Linked DNA regions of Homo sapiens. The protein of the gene in region 1 interacts with the protein of each later gene in a pairwise test. Each region holds a gene or a part of one and is shown on either strand. Other genes may lie near its edges. The genes, in order: CDH1, C11orf65, MYNN and CTNNA1.

Region 1 (7,473 bases):
AGGTTCCCTTGCAGCTAGATGTGGCTGTGTTTGGGCCAATGGTATATAAGTGGAGGTGATATATGCAACTTCCAGTCGTTTGGCCTCCACTTCCTCTGTTATCCCCTTCCCCAATCTAGGATGGAATGTAGAGGTGGTGGTGGTGAGCTGGCTAGCTTAGACCACGCTGATGAGGGCAGCCCCCAAGGTCTTGCTACTCTGCCTATGGTCTAAGGAACTGCAACATCAGTACCGCCTGGGAGCTGGTTAGAAATGTAGAATCTGGCCGGGTGCGGTGGCTCAAGCCTGTAATCCCAGCACTTTGGGAGGCTGAGGCGGGTGGATCACCTGAGGTCGGGAGTCTGAGACCAGCCTAACCAAAATGGAGAAACACCGTCTCTACTGAAAATACAAAATTAGCTGGGCGTGGTGGCACATGCCCATAGTCCCAGCTACTCAGGAGGCTGAGGCGGGAGAATCGCTTGAACCTGTTAAGCAGAGGGTGCAGTGAGCTGAGATCACACCATTGCACTCCAGCCTCGGCAACAAGAGCGAAACTCCATCTCAAAAAAAAAAAAAAAAAAAAAAGAAATGCAGAATCTGTGGCCCTATGCCAGACCTCCTGGATCAGATTTCCCAGTTCAAAAAGAGGCCCAGATGATTTGTATGCTCTCAAGCTTGGGATGCACTGTCTTGAAGAATGAAAAGAGACAAGGTAGAAGAAACCTGGGTCCCCTGTTGACTTCATGGCCTTCCCATCTTAGACCATTTACCTCTGAAATGTTCAGTAAGAGACAAACTTCTATTTTATGGAGGCTGGCATAACTTGGGAGTCTCTTTCCCACATCAGCTAACCTATATCCTTATTAATATAAGAACAAAAATCATTTCCAGGAAATAAACCTCCTCCATTTTTTTAAGTCAAAGGCTGAGTCACTTGCCAGCTGGACTTACTTAGCAAAGCAAGAATTCCTCCAAGAATCCCCAGAATGGCAGGAATTTGCAATCCTGCTTCGACAGGCTGTGCCTTCCTACAGACGCCAGCGGCCCCTTCACAGTCACACACGCTGACCTCTAAGGTGGTCACTTGGTCTTTATTCTGGTTATCCATGAGCTTGAGATTGATTTTGTAGTCACCCACCTCTAAGGCCATCTTTGGCTTCAAAATGATAGATTCTTGGGCTGGAGAAAGCAATAAAAAGAAATGATGAGACCAGGGGAGGAAAATAAAAAGCTCATTCCAGAATAAAATTGCTAGTGAACTAAAGACACCCGCAAGCCGAGTGAAGAGAGCAGAGCTGCTTGGGTTTTATTTAGGTATGTACTTTTTTTTTTTTTTTTTTGCTGTAAAAAGCTTTATTTCCATTTGGTCTAAGGCTTGGGAGAGGGCTCTAGAGTTGGTTTAAAAAAGCTGCCTAGTGGCTGGAGGGAGAGGCTTAGGCAGAGCGGGGCTCTTCAGATGTCGCTGGGTTCGGTAGGCTCCCGTGTGCCTGAGGGTGAACCTTTTTGCCCAGCCCGGCCTGGAGGCCGGCTGGCCTGTGAAGGTTGGTCAGGTGGTCACCTATCTTCTTGATGAGTTTTACTTTTTCATCTAGGAAGTGGCTCTCCAGGAAGTCACAGATATGGGGGTCTGTGCAGGTGGAACCCAAGGCATGAAGATCCAAAAGGGTCCAGTTCAGGTTCTTCTCCAGGGCCAGAGTGACTTCCATCGCACCCAGGGTTTTACCCCATTCATCTTTACATGGCTTCTGGATGTCCGGGAAGACAGTGCGGCCGCCACACTGGTTTTGCATTTTCAAGGGACACTCAGCGCCCTTGTGCTTCTCCTTGGCCAATTTGTGGAAGAAGTGGTGCACACCTTCCAGATCCACATCGTCATGGTGGAAATAGAAGCCCAGAGAGAAGTAGGTGTAGGAAGCCCATATATGCAAATTGACCAGGCAGTTGACAGCTGCCTCCACCTCGGTAGAATAGTTCTGATGAATCTGGGAGCTCACGATTGGTTGGCAAGAAGGAGCTAACCACAAAAATGGTGTTGTTTGGTCCCAGGAGCAGGAGGTAGCAGAGAAGATGGTCCTGGTTGCAAGTGGAGAGGGGAGTGGAGGGTGGCTAGAGGCTGGGAGAGGGAGCCCTGCTTGGGTTTTAGATTACTGGGTAGCATGCTACAAAGTTAGATACCAGGAAAGGAAAAAGACCTTTGGAGCAAGGCCTCAAAGACAGAAGGGACAAGGAAGCAAGTATCAATGGAAGGGGTGACATCTAGAAGTTGAGAAGGGAAATTGAAAGGTGGGGATCTGGGGGAAGGGAAGCATGGCAGTTGGAGCAAAGTTGCCAAAATAAAACTCAGGTACCCACTTGGGTCGTTGTACTGAATGGTCCAGTTGGCACTCGCCCCGTGTGTTAGTTCTGCTGTGAAGGGAGATGTATTGGGAGGAAGGTCTGCATCAATGATGTTTATGACCTGAGGCTTTGGATTCCTCTCACAGAAGAATATAGTTCGAGGTTCTGGTATGGGGGCGTTGTCATTCACATCAGACAGGATCAGCAGAAGTGTCCCTGTTCCAGTAGCAACTGGAGAACCTAAGAGAAAATACACAGAAAATGTGGCAGCTTGGCAACAGTAATGAATCCCCATTGCCTTCCACCAGACCAAGTCTAGATCTTGTCCTGGCTCTTCAGTGGTCCCTCACCAGGCCCCACTCCACCCGCAGAACCTCCTGTCCCACCAATCCCAAAGGACCTCCACTCCCAGGTGGGCAGGTCTCTGGCCGTTTTACACAGACAACTTATTCCCACCTTGATAACAATTATTCAAGTTATTCCTCACACCAAGAACACACTCCTCCTTCTTCACATATCGTTATTCATTCACTGAATTTTAACTACTCCAAGAAGTCCTATTGCCTGCCTGTTGTTTCCCTAGTTCTCCTTTTTCTGCACTTTCCTGCCATTTGAGGTCATTAACAAAGCATTGAGTCTTTTTATTTATTTTAATTTTAAGCCTGACTAGAAGCTTAAAATCAAAGGGGATGAGTTGGGTCTTTTGAAGTCTCTGCAAATTGGTTTTCAAAATAGATTGGGGAGTTCACATACGCTTTTTTTTTTTTTTTTGAGGCAGAGTCTCACTCTGTCACCCAGGCGGGAATGCAGTGGCATGAACACAGTTCACTGCAGCCTCTACCTCCTGGGCTTAATCTCCCACCTCTGCCTCCCTAGTAGCTGAGACTACAGGCGCATGCCACCATGCTTGGCTAGTTTTTAAATTTTTTTTGTAGAGAGGGGGTCTTATCATGTTGCTCAGGCTGGTCTTGAACTCTTGAGCTCAAGTGATCCTCGCATCTTAGCCTCTGAAAGTGTTGGGATTATAGGCGTGAGCCACTGCGCCCAGCCCATCCACACTTCTGTTTGCATTTCTTTTATATCTTGACACAACACGGAGCATATGGTAGTAGGAAAAATTGGTACCCAGGGAACTATCATCAATATTAGTATACGATACGGATACAAAACAACAGAAGAATCCATCTCAAACCTATAAATAGATATGTCTAGATGGCATGACTGTAAATTTTTAAAACTTTTTTCTCATGTAAATTTTATTTTTTAACAATGAGCACACGTCATTTAAAATTAACTCAAGGAGGCCAAGCATGATAACTCATGCCTGTAATCCCAGCATTTTGAGATTATGGGCAGTATGTTGCCCAGGCTAGTCTTGAACTCCTGGCCTCAAGCCATCTCCCACCTCAGACCCCCAAAGTGTTGGGATTACAGGTGTGACCCTAGCACCCAGCCTATAAATGTATTTAAATACACAGAAGCAGTCTGGAAGGACCCACACCTAACTGATTTAACACCTAACTAATTTCACCCACATGGGTATTAACATTTTTCAGGTAAAGGAATTGAGGGACATAAAAATTAAACAGCAGGCCAGGCACGGTGGCTCACACCTGTAATCCCAGCACTCTGGGAGGCCAAGGTGGGCAGATCACAAGGTCAGGAGTTCAAGACCAGCTTGGCCAATATGGTGAAACCCCGTTTCTACTAAAAATACAAAAAATTAGCTGGGCGTGGTGGTGCACACCTGTAATCCCAGCTACTTGGGAGGCTGAGGTAGGACAATTGCTTGAACCTGGGAGGCGGAAGCTGCAGTGAGCCAAGATTGCACCACTGCACTCCAGCCTGGGTGACAGAGCAAGACTCTGTCTCAAAAAAAAAAAAAAAATTAAACAGCAAATCCAAGGTCACACAAGTATTAAGCTTTGGAAATGGATTGTAAACCATCATTACCTGGTTCCCTTAGGGAAGGAATAAAGAGTGAGTAGTGAAAAGTAAGTTCTGTTTGACCAAAATTACTTGAAAAAACAATTTTTTTTTTGGAGACAGAGTCTTGCTCTGTTGCCCAGGATGGAGAGCAGTGGCGCAATCTTGGCTCACTGCAGCCTCCACCTTTCAGACTCAAGCAATCCTACCACTTCAGCCTTCTGAGTAGCTGGGCCTACAGGTGCTCACCAACACACTCAGCTAATTTATGTACTTTTTGTAGAGACAGGGTTTTGCCATGTTACCCAGGCTGGTCTTGAACTCCTGGGCTCAAGTGATCCTCCCACCTCAGCCTCTCTAAGTGCTGGGATTACAGGTGTGAGTCACCGTGCCCAGCCCACTTGAATTTTTGATAATAAGAATGCCTTTGTTTAAGAATAAAAGAGAAATCTTTTGCAGCAACATGGATGAAACTGGAGGCCATTGTCTCAAGTGAAACGAATCAGACATATAAGGAGAAATACTGCATGTTCTCACTTAGAAGTCGGAGTTCGATAATGTGTACACATGGATGTAGATTGTGGAATGATAGACAATGGCAGCTGGGAAGGGTCCAAGGGGTGGGAGGGGGTAGATGATGAACAATTACTTAATGGGTACAATGCATGTTATTTGGGTGACGGATACCCTAAAAGCCCTGACTTTACCACTACACATCTATGCATGTAACAAAATTACCCTTGTACTCCATACATTTATACAAATCAATCCAGCAAACAAAAAGGATAAAAGAAAAAGAATGAACTCTTCCCTCCAAAAGAAGGGAGGGGCAAGGAACTGAACTAGCTAGGAGGTCGAGGCAGCAAAGGCTCAGATGAGGCCCCCTTACCATTGTCTGTAGCTATGATTAGGGCTGTGTACGTGCTGTTCTTCACGTGCTCAAAATCCTCCCTGTCCAGCTCAGCCCGAGTGGAAATGGCACCAGTGTCCGGATTAATCTCCAGCCAGTTGGCAGTGTCTCTCCAAATCCGATATCTGAACGGGGACAAGCTCTGGCTTTTAGAATAGGACCAGCAAACAACATGTAGCTGAAAACGGCTTAAGCGCTTCTTCAGTTATATGGTTACTTCCAACGTTTTTATTTTGAAAACCAACAATAGGCCGGTCGCGGTGGCTCATGCCTGTAATCCCAACACTTTGGGAGGCTGAGGTGGGCAGATCACCTGAGGTCAGGGGTTTGAGACCAGCCTGGTCAACATGGTGAAACCCTGTCTCTACTAAAAATACAAAAATTAGCTGGGTGTGGTGGCACACGCCTGTAATCCCAGCTACTGGGGAGGGTGAGGCAGGAGAATCGTTTGAACCTGGGAGATGGAGGTTGCAGTGAGCCGAGATTGCACCACTGCACTCCAGCCTGGGCAACAAAAGTGAAACCCTTTCTTTCTTTTTTTTTTTTTTTTTTTTTGAGACGGAGTCTTGCTCTGTAGCCCAAGCTGGAGTGCAGTGGCGCGATGTCGGCTCGCTGCAAGCTCCACCTCCTGGGTTCACACCATTCTTCTGCCTCAGCCTCCGGAGTAGCTGGGACTAGAGGCGCCCGCCATCACGCCCGGCTAATTTTTTTGTATTGTTAGTTGAGACGCGGTTTACACCGTTTTAGCCAGGATGGTCTCGATCTCCTGACCTCATGATCCGCACGTCTCGGCCTCCCAAAGTGCTGGGATTACAGGCGTGAGCCACCGCGCCCGGCCGAAACTCCGTCTTTAAAAAAAAAAAAAAAAAAAGAAAACCAAGAAAACCAACAATACAACAGACAAGTTACTATAATAGTATGATGACCATCCATGAACTCTTCACCTGAGTTTACTCATTGTTAATACTTTGCCACATCTGCTCTGTCTATATTGACACACGCCTACATAATTTCTTGTTCTGCTGAACCATCTGCAAATAAATTGCAGAAGTCATGTTCCTTTACTTATAAATATGTCAATGTGTTATCTCCTAAGAACAAAGGCATTCTGTTATATAACCCCAATTTGATTTTCTTTTTTTTTCTTTTCTTTTTTTTTTTTTTTGGGACAGAGTCTCGTTCTGTCGCCCAGGCTGGAGTACAGTGGCGTGATCTCAGCTCACTGCAAGCTCCACCTCCCAGGTTCATGCCATTCTCCTGCCCCAGCCTCCTGAATAGCTGGGTCTACAGGCACCCGCCACCACGCCCGGCTAATTTTTTGTATTTTTAGTAGAGACGAGGTTTCACCATGTTAGCCAGGATAGTCTCGATCTCCTGACCTCAGATGATCCACCCATCTCGGCCTCCCAAAGCACTGGGATTGCAGGTGTGAGCCACCGTGACCAGTCTTGATTTTCAATTTTAGGAAACAAAACTTTGATAGAATTCTATTGTCGAATATATGGTGCATATTCGAATTGTCAGATTTTCCAAAAATGTCCTTTATAGCAACCTTGCACCCTTCTGGATTCAGGATCCAATATGGCCTTTCGTTGGCATGGCTCTTCCTTAGGTCTTTCTTTTCTGTCACTGACATTTTTGAAATGTGCTGGCCGTTGTTTTGTAGCATGCCCCTTAACTTGGGTTTGTCTGATTATTCCTCAAAATTTAGATTCAGGTAATCCATTTCAGGGGTCGGTGGGGGCAAGAACAGGACAGAGGTGATGCTGTGGCCTCCCTAGTGCAGGACACTGGGAGGCACATGATGTCTGTCTGTGCTTCTATTGATAACTTTGATCACTTGGATAAGGGAAAGGCCACCAGATTTCTTCACAGCAAAGGTGCCTTTTTTCACTGCATGATTAACCTATAATCTGCAGGTAGATAATTTGAGAATATCTTGTTCAGCAACTAATTTTCACCCAATGGATTTGGCATCTGTGGATGATTCTTGCTGAAGCAATGATTACTATAATCCTTATTTATTTTTAAAAGCAGACTCCTGCAGACCAGCTCCCCCAAACAATACAGTAGTTCCTAAATGGTGGCAACATGCCACCTCCTCTCCTGTCATGAACATCTGGAGATGCAGGTTGCCCTGTTGACCTGTGGGTGGACTGCACTATTGCCATTTAATGGGAGGTACAGGGAGGCTAACAGAGATCTACTGCTCAGTTATTTACTAGGGTCATGGAAAGGCTCTGAAAGAGAAACTAAGAAATCAAAGGAGGAAAGGGCTCTAAGAAACTGTGGGCTTGGCCTCACTTCTTTGGAAGTGC
Region 2 (7,567 bases), on another chromosome or scaffold:
ATCATTACAGTGAAAGAGATCTGACCTAACCAACTCCATCTTGATTCTAACCTCCAAGCTGTCCCTGTTTATTCCTGGGCATAGGCCAAACTAACCTTGGGAGGAACTTAGTTTATAGTTTAACTTTGAAACAAAGATGGTAACAGCGCTTTCCCAAAAGAAGCCCTCTTCATGCCTGAGGATTAGACTGCCTTTGCAGGACTAACAAATTAGCTGAAACATAGAAATTATGATTTAGGATTCATACATCTGAAGGCTGCCAGACTTTGAGCCTCCTCAAATTGCTCCTGGGGATAACATCACTATTGTAAACCTAAAATCAGTGCTTGAGATATTTTGCAGACCCTGCACTTGATGATTCCACTAGCATCACTCAGATCAATAAACTGGCTTATCTGGTCTTGTGGCCCCGACCCAGGAACTGACTTAGCATAGGAGGACAGCTTCGACTCCCTTTGATTTCATCTCTGACCCAACTAATCAGCAGCTCCCCACTTTCTGATCCCCTACCCACCAAATTGTCCTTAAAAACCACAATCCCTGACATTTCAGGGAGACTGATTCAAGAAATAAAACTGCGGTCTCCCATACTGCCAACTCTGCAAGAATTAAACTCTATTGCAATTCCCCTGTCTTGATAAATTGGCTCTGTCTAGGCAGCAGACAAGGAGAACTCATTGTGTGGTTACAGTCTCAAAAAAAAAAAAAAGAAAAGAAAAGAAAAAATATTTAAGCTTGGCACCATTATTTTTGTTGATGGTGAAAATACTAAAAGGGGCCAGGCATGGTAGCTCACGCCTGTAATCCCAGTACTTTGGGAGGCCGAGGTGGGTGGATCACAAGGTCAGGAGATCGAGACCATCCTGGCTAACACAGTAAAACCCCATCTCTACTAAAAATACAAAAAATTAGCCAGGTATCATGGAGGGCGCCTGTAGTCCCAGCTACTTGGGAGGCTGAGGCAGGAGAATGGCGTGAACCCAGGAGGCAGAGCTTGCAGTGAGCTGAGATCCTGCCACTGCACTTCAGCCCGGGCAACAGAGCGAGACTCCATCTCAAAAACAAAAAAAAAAAAAGAAAAAGAAAATACAACAAGGGTACACAGAAGACAAACAGTCCCCTGGCATAACAAGAGTCACTGTAGTGAAGAGGACAGATTTCTCAGCCAAGAATTAGCTAAAGGTGCCAACTCCCTTCCTCTAGCCTCTTCAAACTGCTAAGCCTCAACAAGAGGATTGATGCCTGGTTGGAGGTCCCTCTGGCCTCCTTTAGGACCACTGCAGGACCTGTGCCTTTGACCCACACCCACTCCTCATGTGTGACATTGTGGTTTTCTACTACATGACATATTTTCCACAATTATAAAAGATTCCATGCTCACATCCGGGAGACAGCCTTGGAGTCCCCTATTGTTGGAGTTTGCTCCAGTGCCAAAGCAGAGAGGAAAGAAATGGCATATAATTGTGACTCTTCTCCCTAGGCAAAATGGCATGTAATTGTGACTCTTCTCCCTCGGCACTACAGATATTTCCCCTTTCCTCATGCCAATTCATTTTTGTTTCCTTATCTCTTGTCTTCACATGGTTTATAAAGAAAAATCTTTGCCTTGTAAGTGGAAAGCAAGAATATTAATTTCATAAATATAATATGATATATTGTATAATAGTAGTAAGACAAAGAAGAGAGAAAAAGAAGAGGAAGAGAATAAGTGGAGAGGGGAAGAGAGAAGGAAGGAAGGAACGATTTCTGTGAAACCACCCAGAAGTTCTTCTGAGTTCTGCGTCTTAGTAAACTGTTCCTAGATTTAAGCAGGTACATATAAATGAATAAACCTAACACTTGACAGTTTCTAGTCTTAATGATCCCTTGTGGCTACTTTAAAGAAAGATACTTTTAAAGAACTGAACAATTTTTACATGTATTAGAGCAATAAGAAAATGTTCTAGCCTGTTATGTAGAAATTGCTGAATTCTTGTGGATCAGGTTAGAGGTAACATAAGTACTCAACAGTAACTATTGTAAATACTTTTTAAAATAATTCAGATAAGCACTACATTAAAAATATGCAGTTTATTAGGTTGATGCAAAAGTAATCGCGGTTTTTGCCATTATGTTTAATTATGTATGTTTAATGACAAAAACCGCAATTACTTTTGCACCAACCTAATAAAAATAATATCTAAACAGCAGTATACCTTAAATTTATTTTTATATTTCATCCAGTACATTTAGGAATTTTTGTTCTAAATTATTTACTGGCTTAGTTTTGCAGTTTTTTAATTTAAAATTTTTAAATTGTGGTAAAATATACATAAATTTATCCTTCTAACTAGTTTCAATTGTACAATTCAGTGGACTTAAGTACATTCACATTGTTGTGTAATTTTGAATTTAATTTTTTTTTTTTTTTAGAGGGAATCTTGCTGTGTTGCCAGGCTGAAGTGCAATGGCGCTATCTCGGCTCACTGCAACCAACCTCTGCCTCCCGGGTTCTATCAATTCTCCTGCCTCAGCTTCCTGAGTAGCTGGGACTACAGGCAGCGCGCCACCAGGAGATTGAGACCATCCTGGCTAACACAGTAAAACCCCGTCTCTACTAAACATACAAAAAATTAGCCGGGTATCATGGAGGGCGCCTGTAGTCCCAGCTACTTGGGAGGCTGGGCTAATTTTTGTATTTTTAGTAGAGAGGGGGTTTCACCATGTTGTCCAGGCTGGTCTTGAACTCCTGACCTCAAGTGATCCGCCCACCTCAGCCTCCCAAAGTGCTGGGATTACAGGTGTGAGCCACCACACCTGGCCTGAATTTAAATTTTTTAACCCAGTTTCTATTAGATTGAAAATTAAGATATACATAATGTTTCCATGACTATATTTTTACAGTTTATTGTTCATAACTACTGTGTATTAATGCATCAAGGCAACTACATAAAGAGGAACTGAAGCTCACCCCTTGCTTATGATTGTGATGATTTTAAAGAACTCTGGAAGTTCAGTGAGTCACTGAATTAACCTACCAAGAATTTTTTCTGTACAAATGTTTTCATTATACAGGGAAATTTCTCTTCAGGTGTTTCTTTTCCCTCCTTAAAAGTTTATCTTCCTTACAAACAAATTATATTCCATGCATGAACATAGGACGAACATAGCAAAACTGGGCAGTTCTGAACAAGATTTTTTCACATTGCAATAATCTGTGACCAACTAAAGCACTGCCAAAGTGTCAGACTCAGAATTCAAGCAAGTCAGACTTGCTTTAGATAAGCAGTGCTTGCATTATTTAAGGTCATTTGAAAACTCATTCAAGAGGTCGTCTGTTTTCACTTAAAGCAGTTTAGCTTAACCAGCTGAAGAGCTTACATTTAGAAATAACATTGGACTGCAAGTCACGTATTCTTTGACCTTGAGCAAGACCTGTCAAATAGCTAGAAGGATCAGTTGTCTCATTTTCAAATGAATAAATTAAACTAATTAAATAGGCCGGGCGCGGTGGTTCACGCCTGTAATCCTAGCACTTTGGGAGGCCAAGGCGGGAGATGGGGTAGGGGGGGATCGCTGGAGCCCAGGAGTTCAAGACCAGCCTGGACAACATGGAGAAACCCTGTCGCCACTATTAATAAAAATAGAAAAATGAGCCTGGCGTGGTGGTGCACTCCTACGGTCCCAGCTACTCGGGAGGCTGACGTGGGAGAATCACCTGAGCCAGGGGAGTTCCAGGCTGCAGTGAGCCGAGATCGCGCCACTGCACTCCAGCCTCGGCCACAGATTGAGACCCTATCTCAAGAAAAATTTTACAAAAATTAATAGAAAATATTTCATTATATTTCTCAACATCTTTAAGGTTCTTGGTTGAAATGACTGGGCTTTATTATATACTAAGCCCAACTTCGTAGACAATCACTTTGCTTTCCCTTCCAAAATCCTTTGCCTCAAAGCCACTGACAATCGAAAGCGGGCTTCTAACAGAACCAGCAGCCTTCACAAGCGGTTGGTCTATATCCCCTGCACTTTGTCAGAGCGCGAATAGAGGAAAGGCGGGGCCTAGAAGGCGGGGCTAGGAGGGCAATGGGGCGGGACAGAACGGATTGAGTTACGTCATTTCCGCCTGCGACGTTACCTAGGAGTCCAGCGGCGCCCGGGCCAGCAGCGATTGGTAGGTGAAGGGAATAGTGTCCCTTCTCTCAGCGCGTACTACTGTTCCGGTAGCCTTTGTGCCCACTGGTTTGAGCCTTCGTTGTTTCAAGGCCCTAAAGAACCCATACCCTTGATACCATTCCCCATCCGCCCCTCTTAAGGACGTTTCATTCCTCTAAAGCCCTCCCAGCGAGGCCTCCAGCTGGTTTACAGTCCTGCCCGGGAGTAACCCCTTCCTCAGAGCTCCTTTCCTCGCCCTCGGTGAAGTTGCGTCGGGCTGGTTGACAAGTCCTTACTGCTCATACTGCGCCTTCACAGATCCCCACACCCCAATCCTCCGCAAAGATATTACTCCGTCCACCTTCCCGCTGACCGGGAAGTACACATTAATCTTCCTTAGATTTTTCCTCATTTCTTTCCTTTGCCCCCTCCCATTTGTTTTACGTCTTTTCAGTTTTTTTAGAGATGGAAAAGGGAAACGCGTTTTTAAAGAATAGGTTAGTTTTTCTTCTCCTGCCCCTAGCATCAAGGACCACAGGTAAAAAGGAAAAGCGAAATTACGAAACTTATAAAGGCCACGCGAATCATTTGTTTATTCAATAAATTTAGTAGAGGAAACAAAATAGGACGTATACAGGTTCCAATTCAAGCAAAGTAAAGATTGTTTGCTGCTTTAAAAGTGAAACCAAGAATCCAAACACGTCTTGTGGGCTTTTTTCCACGAAGCGTAAAAATAAATAAGTGAAAACATCATCTATTATGATAAAAAATTTTATTGATTAGGGATATAATAAGCTTGGAAAATACTTATCTGTGAATCTACAAGTGGCACATGGGTGTAGTAAAATACTTCATTGCCTGAGCAGTTGTTTGATAGTACATTTTATTTGGTTAGTTTTTTGTTGTTGTTTGTTTTTGAGAAGGCATCTCGCTGTGTTGCCCAGGCTGAGTGCAGTGGCGTGATCTCAGTTCACTGCAACCTCTGCCTCCTGGGTTCAAGTTATTCTCCTGCCTCAGCCTTCCGAGTAGCTGTGACTGCAAGTGTGCGCCACCACACCCAGTTTATTTTTGTATTTTTACTAGAGACAGGGTTTCACCATATTGGCCAGGCTGGTCTCAAACCCCTGACTTAAGGTGATCTGCCCACCTTGGCCTCCCAAAATGTTAGGATTACAGGCCTGAGCCACCAGACCCGGCCTGGTAGTACATTTTAGTATCTTAAAACTTATGAAGGGTTTTCACAATGGTTATTTTATCTGGAGCATCATAATAACCATATAAAGTCGATCTTATTTCTTATCTAAAGCCAGCAACGGTCCCACCCTCCTTTCTGCTCCAGATGGTGTCCTCTTACACCTACTCAAAGGTTTTACCATTTAACTTATCCCTTTTTTTGCCCCTTTAAGTTCTCCGTCACTTTAATTTCTCCCTCACTACTGGATGGTACATTTTAACATGCTTTAGAATCTGTCGTTTTTTGTTGTTGTTGTTGTTTTTTTTTTTTTTTAGACCGAGTTTCACTCTTGTTGCCCAGGCTGGAGTAGTGGCATGATCTCGACTCACCGCAACCTCCGCCTGCCAGGTTCAAGCAATTCTCCTGCCTCAGCCTTCCTGAGTAGCTGGGATTACAGGCATGCGCCACCACACCCAGCTAATTTTGTATTTTTAGTAGAGACGGGATTTCTCCATTTTGGTCAGGCTGGTCTCAAACTCCCAACCTCAGATGATCCGCCCACCTTGGCCTCCCAAAGTGCTGGGATTACAGGCGTGAGCCACCGCGCCCAGCCTTTTTTTTTTAAAAAAAAACCTTTAATCCATTCTCACTCTCTAGCTACACCCCATTTTTCTGCTCCCTTACAGCACTCCAAAGAATTACTACTGTACTTACTGTCTCAACTTTCCCACTTCCTCAACCCAACCCAAACTTCCTTCCCTGCTTACTCCACTGAAGCAGTGCCTGTACAGTCACTAGTGACTTTATCTGGCCAAATCTCCCTTTTTTTCCTCTGTATTTACTTGCCCTTGCAACAATATTTGACACAATTGAATATGTTCTTTCTTGAAATTGTGGAACTTCATTGTTTATTTCTGAATCAGATAATTTTGAATGCTGGAATATATTTCCTCTATATTTTGTGTATTCATAAACATATAATGGTGGCATTTATGACATACTTTTTTGGCAGCTTCTAAACACCCTTTAGCCTATGTCACTAGAGAAGCAGGAAGCAGGTGTATGCAGAAAGCCCGTGTAAAATTATTTAGATCAAAGTATTCAATAAACTGGTTCAGGATTTTCAAGGGATTTTTAAGATCCAGTGTTAAATTTCCACCTACAAAATTGGGAATGTATTTGGGAAAATGATGAAATTGTGATGAATTAATGCTAATGCTGTCACGTTAAATAACACACACACTACATTGATAACAGGTAAAAAATCTCACAGTTTAGTTCTTGGAAAGTATTAAAAGACCCATTTTAATCCTAATATCTAATTTACGTTTAGTTTTTTACTTTTCTAAAATTTAGAGTCAAGCATTCCCATAGAATGTTTATGGGCATAAATTAGACACCATTTTTGAGGACAGTTTGGCAGTGTTAGGTTTCAATATGCACGCTGTTTTTTTTAATGAAGTTATATTGTATATATCTGAACTAAATGCACATTGTGGAAAAATACCAACAGCATAAAAGAGTATACTGGAACAAAAACATCTCTTCCCTTTCCGAACCCAGGCTCCTCAGTCCACAGGTCCCTTCCTAGAGACAATCATTCTTAGTAATTTCTCATATCCCTTTCCAGAGAGAGTCAATTCAAATATATATGTGCACCAGGCGCAGTGGCTCATGCCTGTAATCCCAGCGCTTTGGGAGGCCGAGGTGGGTGGATCACGAGGTCAAGAGATGGAGACCATTCTGACCAACATGGTGAAACCCCATCTCTACTTAAAATACAAAAATTAACTGGGCACGGTGGTGCACACCTGTAGTGCCAGCTACTTGGGAGGCTGAGGCAGGAGAATCACTTGAACCCGGGAGGCGGAGGTTGCAGTGAGTGGAAATCGCGGGGAGGCTAAGGCAGGAGAATCGCTTGAACCCAGGAGGCGGAGGTTGCAGTGCACCAAAATCGCTCCACTGCATTCCAGCCTGGCGACAGAGCGAGACTCCGTCTCAGAAAACAAACAAAAAACAGAAATATATATGTGCATACCTTTTGTCATAGCAATTCCACTTGTAAAAACTATCCTACAAAAATTGTTGCCGCTGAGCGCAATGGCTTATGCCTGTAATGCTAGCACTTTGGGAGGCCAAGGCGGGTGGATTTCTTGAGGCCAGCAGTTCGAGCCCACCCTGGCCAACAGGGTGAAACTCTGTCTCTACTAAAAATACAAAAATTAGCCAGGCGTGGTGGCACACACCTGTAATCCCAGC
Region 3 (8,118 bases), on another chromosome or scaffold:
GGGTTTCACCGTGTTAGCCACGATGGTCTCGAACTCCTGACCTCGTGATCCGCCCTGCTCGGCCTCCCAAAGTGCTAGGATTACAGGCGTGAGCCACCGCGCCCGGCCTACCTCTGCGATTTTTGTTGCTTTCCATTTTCTCTGTCCTTTGGAACCTTGTGACTTTTAAAAAATTGGGAAATGTCCACATTATAGTATAGTTTAAATGTCAATTGAAGAGAATAACCCAAGTGACAAAAGGGACCATGAGTTAATATTCTTAAATGAATTCGTTCGATAACTTTATACGTTTTAATACATTTGTATAGCCACAGAGAGCAAAATGTTCAGTTTTTAGATGTGTGGTACCCTTGGAGATTTGTGGCCCGTGCGTTTGTAGTAATTCCAGCTGGATGGGGCTTTCCAGCTCCCGGCTTTCTTATTCTTTCTGTCCCCATTGCGCACCTCCTTTGGGGTCCTTTCCTGCCCCCCGACAACACCCCCAGTCCCCCCACCCCCAGCCACCCCAGCCCCACCCCCCAACCTCCCCAGCCCCACCCTACCCCACCCCCACCCCACCCACCCTCCCCAGCCCCAGCAGCCTGCTGGGAGAAGGAGGTACCTGATGAACAGCGAGCTCCTCCAGTCCTGAGCTTGGTCGCCCACGCAGAGTTCTAGCCCGCCCTGGGCCGCGCGGCTCTGGCCCTTGGCGCGGCCGATAATGTTCGGGTAGATAAACTGGGGCTCCCGGCACCCAGCCACGCCCGCCTTGATCATTCCCGAGCCGTTGTCGATCACCACCGGTAGCTGGCAGTGGTTCATGCCGCCGCTGCTGCCGCCGCCTCCTGTCTCTGAGCCGCTCTAGCTACGGGCTCGGCCGGGGCCGAGTGCCTGGAACGCCGCGTCACAGAGGCCCCGGCACGGCCGGGTGAGGCCAGAGTCCTGGGGGCGCAGGCAGGGGGTCGGCAGGGCCCCAGGCGGAAGGACTCGCTGGACGCACCGTGCTCCTCATGTTACCGCCCGCTATTGCTTCTCGCAGGAATTGGGCCACCCCAACACCTGGAATCCCGGAATCCCAGTATCAGGAAAACCCGACTTTCGCATCAAAAGATTCAACTCTAACCCTTCACAAGTGCATTTCTCAAATACCCAGAAGAGCTATAACAGCAGTTTTATTTTCCAAAGCCACGGAATTCTGGTTAACTGGTGGCGGTTCCGGGGAGTTCTAGAATTCGCCCTTGAAACTGGGGAAAAATGAGACTTAAGAGGAGAAAGTTGTTGCAGGAAGGGAGGCAGTGTCTGCTTCTGAAATGTTAAACTTCTAAAATAAGGAGAAAAATGCTGGAATTTAAATGAGTTTTAAGTACGTTTATTATTGTTTCTGTACCTTGGGCAATGCTTTGTTGTGTTTCTTCCTGTGATTTCCAAGCAAAATGTACGCAATTAAAACAAAATAGTAGTTCCTAGCTTAAATATGTAAATAAATATAAATTTATATATATTTATATAAATATATATAAATTTAAATATAAAATATTAAAAAATATATAAATTTATATAATTTATATAAATATATGTTATATTATATAAATATATTTATATATTTATAAAATATATATTTATATATTTAAGCAAGGATATAAATCGAAATATATATATTTATATTTATTATATGTATAAATATAAATATATAAAAATTTATATTTATATTTATTATATGTATAAATATAAATATATAAAAATTTATATTTATATATCATAAATATAAATATATAAAAATTTATATTTATATATCATAAATATAAATATATAAAAATTTATATTTATATATCATAAATATAAATATATAAAAATTTATATTTATATATCATAAATATATAAAAATTTATATTTATATATCATAAATATATAAAAATTTATATTTATATATCATATATAAAAATTTATATTTATATATCATATATAAAAATTTATATTTAGATATCATATATAAAAATTTATATTTAGATATCATATATAAAAATTTATATTTAGATATCATATATAAAAATTTATATTTAGATATCATATATAAAAATTTATATTTAGATATCATATATAAAAATTTATATTTAGATATCATAAATAAAAATTTATATTTAGATATCATAAATAAAAATTTATATTTAGATATCATAAATAAAAATTTATATTTAGATATCATAAATAAAAATTTATATTTAGATATCATAAATAAAAATTTATATTTATATATCATAAATATATAAAAATTTATATTTATATATCATAAATATATAAAAATTTATATTTATATATCATAAATATATAAAAATTTATATTTATATATCATAAATATATAAAAATTTATATTTATATATCATAAATATATAAAAATTTATATTTATATATCATAAATATATAAAAATTTATATTTATATATCATAAATATATAAAAAATTATATTTATATATCATAAATATATAAAAAATTATATTTATATATCATAAATATATAAAAAATTATATTTATATATCATAAATATATAAAAAATTATATTTATATATCATAAATATATAAAAAATTATGTTTATATATAATAAATATATAAAAAATTATGTTTATATATAATAAATATAAAAATTTGTTTATATATAATAAATATAAAAATTTATGTTTATATATAATAAATATATAAAAATTTATGTTTATATATAATAAATATATAAAAATTTGTTTATATATAATAAATATATAAAAATTTATGTTTATATATAATAAATATATAAAAATTTATGTTTATATATAATAAATATATAAAAATTTATATTTATATATAATAAATATAAATATATATATTTCGATTTCTATCCTTCTGGTGTAATCTGCAAGCCTCATTCGCTACTCTTGATTTTTAGGCTGAAGGACGTGCCTGTCTTTTTGCAGGAAAAGTGAAGTTTATCAGGTCATATGAAATTCAAGTTTGGAAAAATTTGAAAGTACATTGCATGTCAATAAACGCATCTTGGTGTCTGATTCTGCATACATCTGTAGAGAATTTGAAAACAAGCAGTCAATTTAGAACTTCTGCTTGGTCTTCGGAAGCAAAAAGAGGAAATTCAAAAGTAATTTTACACGTCCTTCCACCAGAAGCTGAAAGGATGGCTTTTTCGCGGCTGAATAACGAAAGCCCCCTGCTTCGCCCCGGACTCTGAGCAGCTCAACCTGCGGAAAGGATGTGTAATAAAACGCCTTTCCAGGGAGACAAAAAAAAAAAAGGCCACCCAAAGGAAGGGCAACTCGGGAGTGCCTGGTTTCTACTGCGGTACCCGGGCACTTTGGAAGAAAGTGCGTGCAGATTCAAGCTTTTGAAATGGTTTCAGCTCTGTTCAATTGGGCATAGGCTATTTTTCCTTTTCTGTTTTTTTCTTTAAATACATTATATTCATTCCTCTCAATTTGATAATAATCACTTGAGAATTGCGAATTGACACTTACATATCAAGGACTTTACAAAACCCTCTCCAAAGTGGGGTTTCCGTAGTGTAGTGGTTATCACGTTCGCCTAACACGCGAAAGGTCCCCGGTTCGAAACCGGGCGGAAACACACTAAAAAATCCCTTTTTTTTTTTTTTTTTTTTTCCTTCGCTTGGAAGAAAGCGTGAGATCACGCTTTGTTTTCTTTTGTTGTTTGTTTTGTTTTTTTTTCTGAGGGAAGCCTTAGCTTAATGTATGCCGGTCCTTCAAAAGACATGATAGCAATTTGAGAGTCTGAACTGTAAGTTTTTGTTACTTTATTCGTTCACCAAATGTTTTTATGGAAGCCTTGCCACGTGGAACATGTGTCCCGGGTTTTAAAAAATGAATTTGACTCACCAGCTAACACTGAAAAAATAATGTACAGCCTAGAAGGAAAGATCAAAGTGTAAAAGTGGTTAGTCCTGTCGCCTCCTGAGCATTTTTGTATTATATCACTTGGTTTTTCGTCTGAAGTGGCTGTAAATAATCGTATTAAAAATCTTCTGGTCCAGACGCAGGAAAACCTTTTCCGGTATAAAGCCCACCTTCCTCTAATGTTGCGCATGCCCACTGTGCCCAGCTGCTCCGCTTTCGTGCATCCCAGACTTCTGTCACCAGGTAAGGGCATCTTGGAAGCTGAGCTACAGTTGGCTGGGGCACAAAAAAACCAGGGGGTGCCAAGAGTTTTCAGGTACGTAAGCGGGAAAGGGGTGCCAAGTCTCAGCTAAAAAATCCCCTATGGCAGAGATCCGAGTACACATGCAGCAGTTTCCACCGGTGGGGCCCCGAGGAAGGGGAGGATGATGGGAGAAGACAAGCAACTACAAGCCCCCGCACGCAGTGCGCAGCTGGCTTCAGGAGAGAGGCCCGCGGTGCTGTGCTGCCGGGCCTCGGCGCAGAGCCCCGGCAGAGCGCCAGACGCTGACTGCCGGCACCAGAATGCTCGCGATGAGGAAGACAGGCGGAGCGCTGCGAGCTAGCGAGCCCTCAGCTCTCGTATCCATGACGCCTGCTGCTTCGGGGGACCCCTGGCATGCTGGGGAGTGGGTCTCTGTGGTACATCCTGTACCGCCCTGGCCGGCGCCGGACCCCCATGGCCCCAGAACCTCCCGCACTGCCACGGGAAGACAGAGCCGGACGTGACGCCACCGTGGAAGGAAGGGAGGGGCGGAGCGTGGCTCGGTGACGTCCTCCCAAGATGGCGGAGACAGAGTGAAGAAACTGTGTTCCCCCCTTGGGTTGCTATCGGTGAGTTCCTACTTCACCCCCAGCCCGCCATCCCGGTCTCTCTAGAGCCTGGGCCATCAGAGGGCAGGCTCCTTGGAGTTCCAGCACGGGTCGGGGCGCAGGTGGAAGGCTTGGGCTAGGCAGCCCCGGGGTGGCCTGGGCCACAACCTCTGCTGTGGAAATTCGCGGGAGTGGGAGCTGGGCAGAGGGCAGGGCGGCAGAAGCCGAGGAGGGACTGGCTTTGGTTGTCACTCTCGGATGCCGCCTCGCGTAGAGAGTGGGAAGGGAGAAGGTGTGGCCTCCTTAGCGCGAGTGATAGAACCTTTGACAGCAAGCCATGGCCGGGCGCATTCCCGGCTTTCTGGGCAGCCACCTCTCGTTTTGGAGAAACTGCACTGGGGAAACTAACAGGTTTTGGTGACTTGAGAGCAGTTTTTAAAAACTCGTACTGTTCTGCCCCTATCTGTCCCAAGAGATCATGTCTTAGTGGTTTAAAAAATTTTTTTGTAACATAAGTATGTCTACTGAGCTTGAAAATCTGAGGGTTCAACAGATGTGAAAGCGTCAGGTTTTGCTGTGCTTTTTGCAGGTGGTAGAAGTGTTGCCATTCACCGTCACTTATTGATGTGTCCAAAGGATTGTGTTAGTTGATCAAGGTAACCAAAGATAGAAAGGCACTCATCCCTTCATTCTTAACCATGTATGTTTGATAAGGATTTTCAAGGGGGCTAAAATTGTTTAAGTTATGTCCTCTGTCCCTTCCCTCACTGAACGTTGATGAGAACTTACGGTTACTGATTTACTGTTTCTTTTTGTCTTTTAGATCAAGGGTAAAATTCCATTCTGATATCAAAATGCAGTATTCGCACCACTGTGAGCACCTTTTAGAGAGACTGAACAAACAGCGGGAAGCAGGTTTTCTCTGTGACTGTACCATAGTGATTGGGGAATTCCAGTTTAAAGCTCATAGGAATGTGCTGGCCTCCTTTAGTGAGTATTTTGGTGCGATCTACAGAAGCACTTCTGAGAACAATGTCTTTCTTGATCAGAGTCAGGTGAAGGCTGATGGATTTCAGAAACTGTTGGAGTTTATATACACAGGAACTTTAAATCTTGACAGGTAAAGTACACATTTTATTTTCAGTTATAAAAGCTAGTCAGTAGTCTTCACAGCAAAAGTAGATTTGTATTTTTTCCATTCATTCTCTGAACTCAAATTCTTCACCTATTTATGCACACAATGTTTGTTTTTATAAAGAAATCAGTATCACTGATTTAGGATGAGCAGGCAATATTTTTCATAAGCACAGATAATAAACAGTAAGATTTCTGACACGTTTATTTACTGAAACAAAGCCTGTGATTTCACTTATGTAAACTTGAACATTAAACACAATGAATTTATTTTATTTTATTTTTGAGACGGGCTCACCGTCACCCAGGCTGGAGTGCAGTGGGGCAATCTCGGCTCACTGCAACCTCTGCCTCCCGGGTTCAAGCGATTCTCCCACCTCAGCCTCCCTAGTAACTGGGACTACAGGTGTGCACTACCACACCTGGCTAATTTTTGTATTTTTTGGTAGAGACAGGGTTTCACCATGCTGGCCAGGCTGCAAACAAAAAATTCTAAGTTACTTCCAGTTTCCCATTGCTTTTTGGTCCTTGAATTCCTCTGGTCTTCTGTCTCCCTCATTCTGACTCCTGTTATCTCTATTAACCTACCAGTACTAATACTGAAGTAAGGTCAGAGATGCTAGAATGATTCTCTAAGATGCTTACTGATGTCACTGCATTAACAAGAAGTGGGTTCTGAGGAATCTGATAATGTAGGCACTGTGTGTCTCCCCTGTATAACGAACCATATAATTAGATTAATATCAATACATTTACAGATTGTAGGGGAAAAGGTGGAGGGAATAAAAGCAAAGAGAAACTGATTAAATTACCCCTGTCTTATTTCTGTCTCTCTTATGAAAGTGAACATGAATAGACTGTTCATAATCTTCTGACACAGGAAGATTATAGGCTTTGGAATTAGATCTTTCCTGTCAGTCGCTATGTCTCCTTGAGCATGATGCAATCTCTCTGGGCCTCAGTTTCCCCATCTGTCAAAATGAGATGGTAATAACTACCTTGAGGCTAAATAAGGTTTTACTTGATCCTTATTCACTTCCCACTGAACGTTAATTTCTTTATTTTTCTTCTTTACCCTCTCCTCCCCCTTTAATTCCACATTTCTCGGAGAAAAAATAGAAAAAACAAAAAAGAAACACCTGAAATACTGCTGCCCACTGATAACCCCTGTTAACCTTTTGATATATATTAATTAATTCTTTTCCAGATCTCTGTAGAGATGTGCATGTATACATTAAGCAAAATCTTTCCCTCCCTTTTATATTGTAACTTATCATGGAAATATACTTATTTAAAAATCTAGAATCAGGGTGCTCATTAATCCTTTTGACGAGGAAACATTCTTGTGTAAGAAGTATCCAGTGGGGGGAGGGGAGGGAGAGAAAAGTAAACTTTCATGCTATTTTGGAATTATTTTTAAATTTTGGTATAATGAAATCTTCAAGTGAGTTCTTTATAAGTTGATTAAAGGAAAAGAGCAGTGTGAATTTTGGCTGGCCTGCAATTTAATGGTTTCCCTTTCTCTCAATTAACTATGCAAAACAAAAAAATCTTCATTTGAATACACGGTAGAGCACTTTTCTTTGAGACTTCATGCAAAGAACCAATGTGAAGAACAGCCAGGTGTTTTGTTCAGTCTCTTTTGGTACATATCTTTCCTGGAGACTGGGGAGCTAATTCCTCGAGTTCAGCTAGAAATGTAAGAGAGGATTTATACCAAAATAGAAAGGCTTACAACTTAGTGATTAAGAAAACAGGTAGAATATATTAAGTTGGCTCAGGGGCCAGATTACCTTGGTCAAATCTTGGTTCTAACATTCTGTGCTCTTGGACAGGTTACTTTATTTCTTTGGACTTCTGATTTTTCACTTGTGTGTAAAATGAGGATTATAATAGATTTCATAGGCATGTCCTGAGGATAATCTTATAAAGCATTTAGGCATGTACCTGGCAATATGTAATTAAATGACCTTCAGTGACTGTTCAGAGGATGTTATCTAATACTTGTAAACAAAAGCAAATCTGTTATTGAAGTATTGATTGGTGCTCTTAACTGTGACTGAGATTATAGCCATCTATGAAATAGTTTGTATGAATTACCATTTCAATGTTGAACAAATTTTTTTTTTTTTTTTTTTTTTTTTTTGAGATGGAGTCTCACTCTGTCACCCAGGCTGGAGTGCAATGGCGTGATCTCGGCTCACTGCAACCTCCACCTCCCAGGTTCAAGGGATTCTCCTGCCTCAGCCTCCCGAGTAGCTG
Region 4 (7,473 bases), on another chromosome or scaffold:
GAGAGTGGTATGAACTGAGACCCCGCAGACCATACTGGAGATGAGCTGTATTCTAAGTAGTCATGGAAGCAGGGCAGAGCCATGTGATCTGCATTTTCAGATGACAGTATTGACAGCTGGATGCAGAAGGAAGTGGAGAGAGGAAAGAACAGGAAATCGGGAGCGGCCACAGTAGTCCAAGTGGCTATGGAGATCTGCAGAAAGGACAAGACTGGTTTGTGTCAAGATACATTTGGCCAATGGAAGCAATAGGCCCTATTACCGATTGTGTGGGAGTCAAGGATGCCTTTACAATCTTTGGCTTGTGTAAGGAGGCTTGTGTCTCACACATCCTGTGGCCTAGATGAGGCTGAGAGTTTGGCTATTTCAGGGAAAATGGTGGGGAGGCTTGTTAACTACAGAGAAAAACTGTAACTGAGAAAGAGCTTCTCTTGATCAGGCTTAAAACACCAAATGAAATGTATTGTACAATTTCCAGGCGGTAGGAACCGTATTTTTGTACCTATCAGTGTGAGGGAATAGGGGGATGAAGACGGGGTGGCTGAGAAACACAGTGCTGAGGATGAAGAAACCTGGGCCCATCTAGGCACACCAGCCTTCCACAGCACTGGCCACATGGCTTCTGGCTGCTCTCGGCCCCTGCCCAGAGGGGGAGAGAGGGAACTGAGACATAAGAGACAATAGCAGAGGTTAATTTTGGCTACCAAGCGATGGAAGATTCCAGGACATACACATCCGCTCTAGAGAATCCTTACAAATCTATGCTGGGATTAATAAGAACCATTTTTAGAGATGAGTGGCAAAAGTGCTGTGGCCCATGAAACTTACCCTGAATGGACCAGGCTGGGCTGCCTGAGCCCCAGGAGGAGCTTGGAGACCCACCTGGCAAGTCTGTCACTTACATGGTCTGCAATGGTGCGGCCAAGCTTGTCCATCCTGGATCCTGCCTCAGCAATTTTCTTGGCAGCACTGATGACATCCGATGTATTTTTGAGTGGTCCTTTACCTCTGAGAAGAGGGAAGAGAACAAGGATTATTGTATGTGAAGCCCCTCACAGTTGGAGTAGAAAAAGAAGATTGTCCACAAAGCCCCATGGCCTGGGCTGTCTGAGCCGCTGCGCAGGTGACCTGTGGGGAAGAAAGTAGCCCCTGTGCAGCCTGGTGGGGCCGGGGTGCTGCTCACCGGGTAAAGTCTGTCATCTCCATCATAATCATGCACATCTGCTTGGCCAGCACAATGATGTCATTGCCACTGTCGTCCCATTTGGACACTTCAGCATCCAGCTTGCTCTTTTCTTCCTGGAAGCTGGCCACCTGTTCCGCAATCTTCGCTTTTTGCTCCTGGGGAAGCTGAGCCATGATCGCCTGTGATCAGAAGCACAAAGAGCTCTTACATAAAAAGAATATGAAGTTCTCAGAGTGCATTAGCCAAGAATATTTCCAACAGGCAATCTGTGGCATAGGTAGGATAATGCTTTAATAGGTTTCATTTCGCCTGAAGGGCTATTTCTCTCATTTTTTGCAGAAACTTATGGCAGCCTGAATTTCCGACCCACTTTTGAGCACAAGTTTTAGTGTGGAAGGAAACAGCGAGGGGTGGAAGGCTAATGTGGAAGCTTTGGAATCACACCTGTGCAGGGACAGAACCTGCTTAATTCTTATTAATATAAGACAAGAAATGAGAGAAGGGGTTGATGAAAGTGTGGAGCCCTTTCCCTGGTGGGCCCTGATGGACATTTCCAACTATTCAAGATGAACTGAAAGTGGCTTTAGAATGTACACCTGAAGAAAGAGGGCTGAGAGATACCGCTGGCACTCAGGCCATACTTGAGCAACACCTGGAGGCCTGCTGCCCACCTCCAGCCCACAGACCTACGGCTGGGGAGCTCCTCCCTCTCAGCTTCCCTAAGTGCTCATGACTGAGCAGGACATAAGGCAGGGATGTGCTCGCTGTTCACGACAGATTTCCAAGGAGTGAAATCAAAGACTCCTTAGAAATATTTCTTGGCATCCTCCCCAAAACATAAATGCTATTGATTGAAGATTTAATGACTCAAATGAATGCAATGGCTCTGACTGGCTTTCTTGAATGTACCACTGTTATTTTTTAAACCCATGAATAATTAAATAGTTCATACCCATAGTATCGAGATGGACAAAGGCAGCAATCTTTTTCAAATTTCACGATCCTTTCAACAAACACTGCATTGACTAAATCTTAGCCCTTCCCTGACCCAGGGCTCTATCATAAACTAAAGCTCAGGGCACTGCAGAGGAGGCCCAGGACCTGGTCTGCCTCTAGCTGAGGAGGCTACATTTGACTAGCAGGTGCCACAACTTAGTTTAACTTCAGTCTACTGCCAGAGAGACAGAGAGAGAGAAACGGTGTTCTGAATACTGAGGGTGTTTTCCTGGAAACAAGAAAGGGGACAGGGAAAGTCGGCAGCACAAGCTGAACTGCCCCACGGAGCGCTTCCTTACCCGGGCACTCTGGCCAGCTATCAGCTGATCGTCTTCTGTCTGGACGCTCGTCCTGCTTCTGACATCAAAATCTTCTGTCTCAAAGTCAGAGTCATCCAACTCCTCAGGGGTCTGCCACCCAGACAAAGATCACAGGTCAGACACATCTCTGGGCCACCAGCCCCCAGCCACCCTGAGCCTCTTGGCCAGGTGCACGGAGGCCCAGAATTCTGGATTTTAATGTGCAGTGTTCTGAACAGTATGGTGAATAAAGTCAAAATCACTCAGCATTTGTCTCGAGCCTCTGCTTCACTGGTGCACACGCTGGGCTGCCTGGCCCACAGCAGGCCTGGGCTGGTTTCACTGTGTGTGGGGCTCAATTGCTATCACTGAGTCAATTCACTATTTCTTTGTAAGACATGATTGTTTTTTTTTTTCCTTTGAGACAGAGTCTCGCTCTGTCACCCAGGCTGGAGTGCAGTGGCGTGATCTTGGAATCAATGCAACCTCCGCCTCCCGGGTTCAAGAGATTCACCTGCCTCAGCCTCCCAAGTGGCTGGGATTAGAGGCAACATGCCACCATGCCCGGCTAATTTTTGTATTTTTAGTAGAGACGGGGTTTCACCATGTTGGTCAGGCTGGTCTTGAACTCCTGACCTCAGGTGATCTGCCTGCCCTGGCCTCCCAAAGTGCTGAGATTACAGGCGTGAGCCACTTGTGCCCAGTGACATAAGGTTTTTACTTCCTAATTTACTTCCCCAACACCGGCATTTTAAGACAAAGATGAGAACTGTCCTGGGTAGAAAAGGTACTGACTTAAAAATAGAGGTGTTTTGTATAGTATTAAGCGGATTTGTATAACTTTCCTACTTTATGACAAAAAGAAAATTAAATAACTGGGCCTTCTGTTAGGGTACCAAGGCTGCTTGGAGGAGTAAAAATAGGCAATGTATTTTAAAGTATTCTTTTGACTTTCATCAAAAGAAAAGAGGGGAGAATATGGCAGGTGAGGGCTGAGTAAATACCCAAGGGACTGATTACTGGTCCTAGCTCTTTGCTTTAATTATGAAATAAAATTCTTATTTTGTACCAACTACCAGCCTCTCATGATTAGCTACTGACTTGAAACATAATGTTGTCCTCTGGCAGTTATCAGTAAGGGGGCAGCAGGCAGAACAGCTGGGGTTGGCGCTCAGCCCAGCCGGCTGGCCTGTGACAGGAGGGCAGTGAGGCGAGTCTCTCGTCTGTGTACCAGGACATAGTCCAAGCCCAGCCCAAGGACTTGCAGTGAGGTTCAAACAAGAAGATATGCAAGAAACATTCTGGAACCACCAAGAACGTGCTGTGCAAAGGCTGGGCCTGTCCCTTGATGAGGTGAGAACAGTGGACGCTCACGCAGGGGACCAGACAGCATGTCGGTGTGAGGTCCTGGAGGCCGATGGACTCGGTGGCACAAAACACAATGCCAGCACTGACAGTTTTAACGCTGCAGTCACACATGCCTTCGGGACTGGCATGCAATCAATCAGTTAAGGGGCTTTTCAAAGGACCACCTCCTAACATCATCTCTACCTCCCCAGCACCCCATCGCAGACCCAAGAACCGTTCTTGCCAAGAAAACCGAGTACTCTCATTCATTCATTCATTCATTCATTCATTCATTCATTATCTCTCTGCCAAGCACTGTTCTGGGCCCTAAAGATACAAAGTGACAAACAGACAAAAATTCCTCTCGCATATTCTAATGGAAGAAATGACAACAAAGTAAGCAAATGAATTATATGACACATCAAAAGTGACCAGTGCTATGAAGAAAGCAGTGATGAATAAAGGGAGATTTTAATTCTATATGGGTGTTTGGAAAAGTCTCACGAGAAGGTGCTCTCAAGGAGGGGGAAGGGGGGGCGGGTGGCAGCATAGAGGCCGTGGGGAAGGGGCATTGGCCCAGGGAACTGCGTGAATAGCAAGGAGGCCACAGAAGGGGGGCTTAGCTCACTGCCCCCATGTCACCGGCTTGCCTGGAACCCCATGAGTACAAGAGGAGATCAGCAGGAAATAAGGTTGGAGAAGTGACAGGTTCCAGTCCCAGAAGGCCTCGTAGGCCAGCATAAAGAATGAGTGACGTGGCGGCCTGTGGAGACGCTGGCACAGAGGATAACATGATCTGATTGAAGCTTACAGAAATCGCTCTGGCTGCCCTGTGGCTCATGAGACTGTAGGCACCCAGGATGGGAACAGGGAACCAGCTGAGTGGCACCTGCATGAACCCGGGTGAGAGGTGCTGGTGGCTTAGACGAGGGTGAGAACATGTTCAGGTTCTCTACTGTGAACGGAGAGCCAAAAGAATTCACAGATAAAGCAGATGTGAGGTATGGGACAAAAGGGAAATAAAAGATTCGAGGTCTGGGCCCGAGCAAGGGAAGACGGAGTCACTATCAACTAACATGTGCTGCCTGGGTGGAGCAAGTGAGAGGGAGGAGGCAAGGTGCGCAGACAGGTGTGGAACTTAGGAGAGTCGGCCTCTAGACAGGACTCTGAAGAGGTCAAGGACTTCCCAGCAGGCCACACCCGTGTTTCACAGGCTGAGGAGATGGGGAGAAACCAGCCAAGGAGACTGAGAAGGGGTGTGGGTCAAGAGACTTTTTTTTTCCCCCTAAAAATGGGAGAAATCATCATAGGCTTGGGGAAAGGTACAGGAGGCAGGGGGTGAAGAAGCTGGGATCCTAGTACAAAGACGTGCAAGGGATGGCCTTGGCCAGAAGCACCGAGAGCAATGCCCATGGTGCTAGGAGGAAGGTAGAGCACACAGACATGGGATGCAGAGGGGTGGACGCACTAACTGCCTCAGTATCCTCAACGAAATCGGCAAGTGGGCCAAACAGGACAGGGGCACAGGTGTGGGTGGGTGGGTGGACGCCTGTTGCAGGGCAGCAAGGGCGCACAAATGGCCGCGGCTTCTGCGGCTCCATCAGCGTGGCTGTGGCCATCTGCACTGTGCTCAGGAGAGCAGGATCTTGCCAGGACTGCACCTTGCAAGGCAGGTGTGAGGAAACAGCAGGGCAGAGGAGTGAGTATATTCAACTATGGACTCAAAGCTAACAAAGGACTGAACCAAGGACACAAGGGGCTGAGTGACACATGGGGAGGACCAACTGACTGAAGACCCCACAGTAGACTCAAAGGCTCGCTGGGAGTTGCAGGACTCGAGGGCGCAACCTGAACAATAGATCTAGGCTGCTGGGGATGACAAAGACAATGGCAGGCAGTGACAAAAGCTGAGGTACAGCTATGGCCGTGAGGTTGAGGTGGAGGAGGACAAGACATCAAGAAACTGAGAGGCCCAGGGGCTGGATGATTCTTGAATGAAGACAGGAATAGTTGTCAGAGAGCAGGACGGTATGCCGGGAGCTCAATCACAGATGCCATAGAGGCCCCTTTCTCCTCTGCCCCTGCGACAGAGGCCCTCCAGGCACTCTGGCTATGGGGAAAGGGGCTCGGCACTTGGCCATGAGCCTAGGAGCATCACCTGGGGCCGCTCCTCCCCCCAACACCCTGGGGTTCCATCATCCCGTCTGCCTGCAGCCCCTCCGAAGAGAGGGGCACTTCATGTGAACAATAACTTGAATCCGCATTATGAAAATACTTCCTTCTCTGATACTAGCTTGAGAACCATTATTTTCTATAATTTCCTGCCTAACTCAAACTGAAGCCTCATGTTGTAGAGACTGTTTATCCTAAATTAAATCGTCAACTCAGGCTAGCTCCCCTTCTTGGCCCAAGTTTGGGCTCTAACTTGCAACTAACAGTCATTTTAGACAACGTAATTAAATATATCTCATTCTAACAGCTTTTAGATTCATGGTTTTAATATACTGCCACCGCATCTGCCGAGTTCTAGAATGACGCATTGCTCAAGTTTAGCAAATGATAAGAAAGAAGCTGTTAAGACGTCTGAAATGCAGTTACTCACCCTTATCATCAGCACTGCTTTCCTGATGTCCCGGATGCCATCATATACCAGGCGGGAAGCATCGATAAACTCATTCTCATCCATGGGCTGGGCAGGGTCCGAGCTGAGGGCTTCCACGGCTGCTTCTACTTGCTCAGTAAAACGTGGCATGACTGTGGAGAAAGAGGCACAGTAGATACCCTGGTCAGCAGGCAGCATCATTCCCCTGGCCCTCCCTGAATCACTCAGCTAGACAGAAAGAGGTGAGGCTTATGATGAGCCTCTGCTTCTACCTGTGTGAAGGGTATTTACAGTTGAAATAAATTAAATGCAGTATTTTACGACTCAAATCATCTTTTTCTCTGCAACAGAGATTGGATGGTTGAGAACTTGAAGTGAGACTAACTTGAAGCCTTGCTTAAGAATGGGACCTACCTTAATTTAGTCTTTACTCACTAATAGGAGATTTAACTCAGAAATTCATCTTAAATCGTGTGTTTAGAATTAGTCCCGTGATTACTCATGAGATACAGATGAAGAAAATATGCTTGTGAGGCCTGAATTTGGCTATGACCAGCTTCTCAGGAGCCCGATGTGCCATGAGACCAAATCTGAGTTCCCAACTCCTCCTTCCTCACCACAGGGCTGGGCTAATGGGGTGGCCTGCCTCACTGAGGCTGCGGTGTGTGCGAGCACTGGAAAGGGAGAGTTCCCGTACCTGTGTTGGAGAGCAGCTTAGTGGCTTCCAGAACCTTCTCTGTGTAGACTCCTGGCTCATAGTTGTCCATCTCTGAGGTGACTACGTGAATGACCCGGGCTGCCCGGCCTCGAATTGCACCAGCTGTGCGGTCCAGGCCATCCACATCCTTCTCTTGGAGAGCAATGACACATTTGTTCACATCTTCCAAAATGTGATTCTCTGGAGAACAAGCAAAAAGTTGAATGAGGAAGGAGGCTTTCTATGAAAAGGTGGCAACTGTAAGCTGGCATCTATCATTTATTGTTTGCTTGGTGCCAGCCACAGTGCTGAAAGTTTTACATATACTTCATTGGAGAGACCAGTG

Evidence for each region.
Region 2: the proteins of CDH1 (region 1) and C11orf65 interact in binary tests that used the Homo sapiens proteins (3 or more experiments, as listed by UniProt).
Region 3: the proteins of CDH1 (region 1) and MYNN interact in binary tests that used the Homo sapiens proteins (3 or more experiments, as listed by UniProt).
Region 4: the proteins of CDH1 (region 1) and CTNNA1 interact in binary tests that used the Homo sapiens proteins (3 or more experiments, as listed by UniProt).

Annotation. Positions count from the first base shown.
Region 1 is NC_000016.10:68,817,087-68,824,559, reverse strand, and holds part of CDH1 (cadherin-1 isoform 1 preproprotein), read right to left. Parts: intron 5,281-7,473; coding exon 5,135-5,280; intron 2,560-5,134; coding exon 2,335-2,559; intron 2,112-2,334; exon of another isoform or gene 1,328-2,111; intron 1,162-1,327; coding exon 934-1,161; intron 1-933.
Region 2 is NC_000011.10:108,464,057-108,471,623, reverse strand, and holds the start of C11orf65 (protein MFI), read left to right. Parts: upstream 1-4,094; 5' UTR 4,095-4,153; exon of another isoform or gene 4,154-4,672; intron 4,673-7,567. UniProt on the Homo sapiens protein: Acts as an inhibitor of mitochondrial fission. Interacts with MFF and prevents DNM1L recruitment to mitochondria, promoting a more fused mitochondrial network.
Region 3 is NC_000003.12:169,768,720-169,776,837, forward strand, and holds the start of MYNN (myoneurin), read left to right. Parts: upstream 1-4,676; 5' UTR 4,677-4,743; intron 4,744-5,311; exon of another isoform or gene 5,312-5,378; intron 5,379-5,545; 5' UTR 5,546-5,576; coding exon 5,577-5,842; intron 5,843-8,118. Other genes in the region: ACTRT3 (actin-related protein T3), read right to left, coding at 602-801.
Region 4 is NC_000005.10:138,924,365-138,931,837, reverse strand, and holds part of CTNNA1 (catenin alpha-1), read right to left. Parts: intron 7,329-7,473; coding exon 7,128-7,328; intron 6,583-7,127; coding exon 6,431-6,582; intron 2,593-6,430; coding exon 2,482-2,592; intron 1,366-2,481; coding exon 1,184-1,365; intron 1,009-1,183; coding exon 903-1,008; intron 1-902. UniProt on the Homo sapiens protein: Associates with the cytoplasmic domain of a variety of cadherins. The association of catenins to cadherins produces a complex which is linked to the actin filament network, and which seems to be of primary importance for cadherins cell-adhesion properties.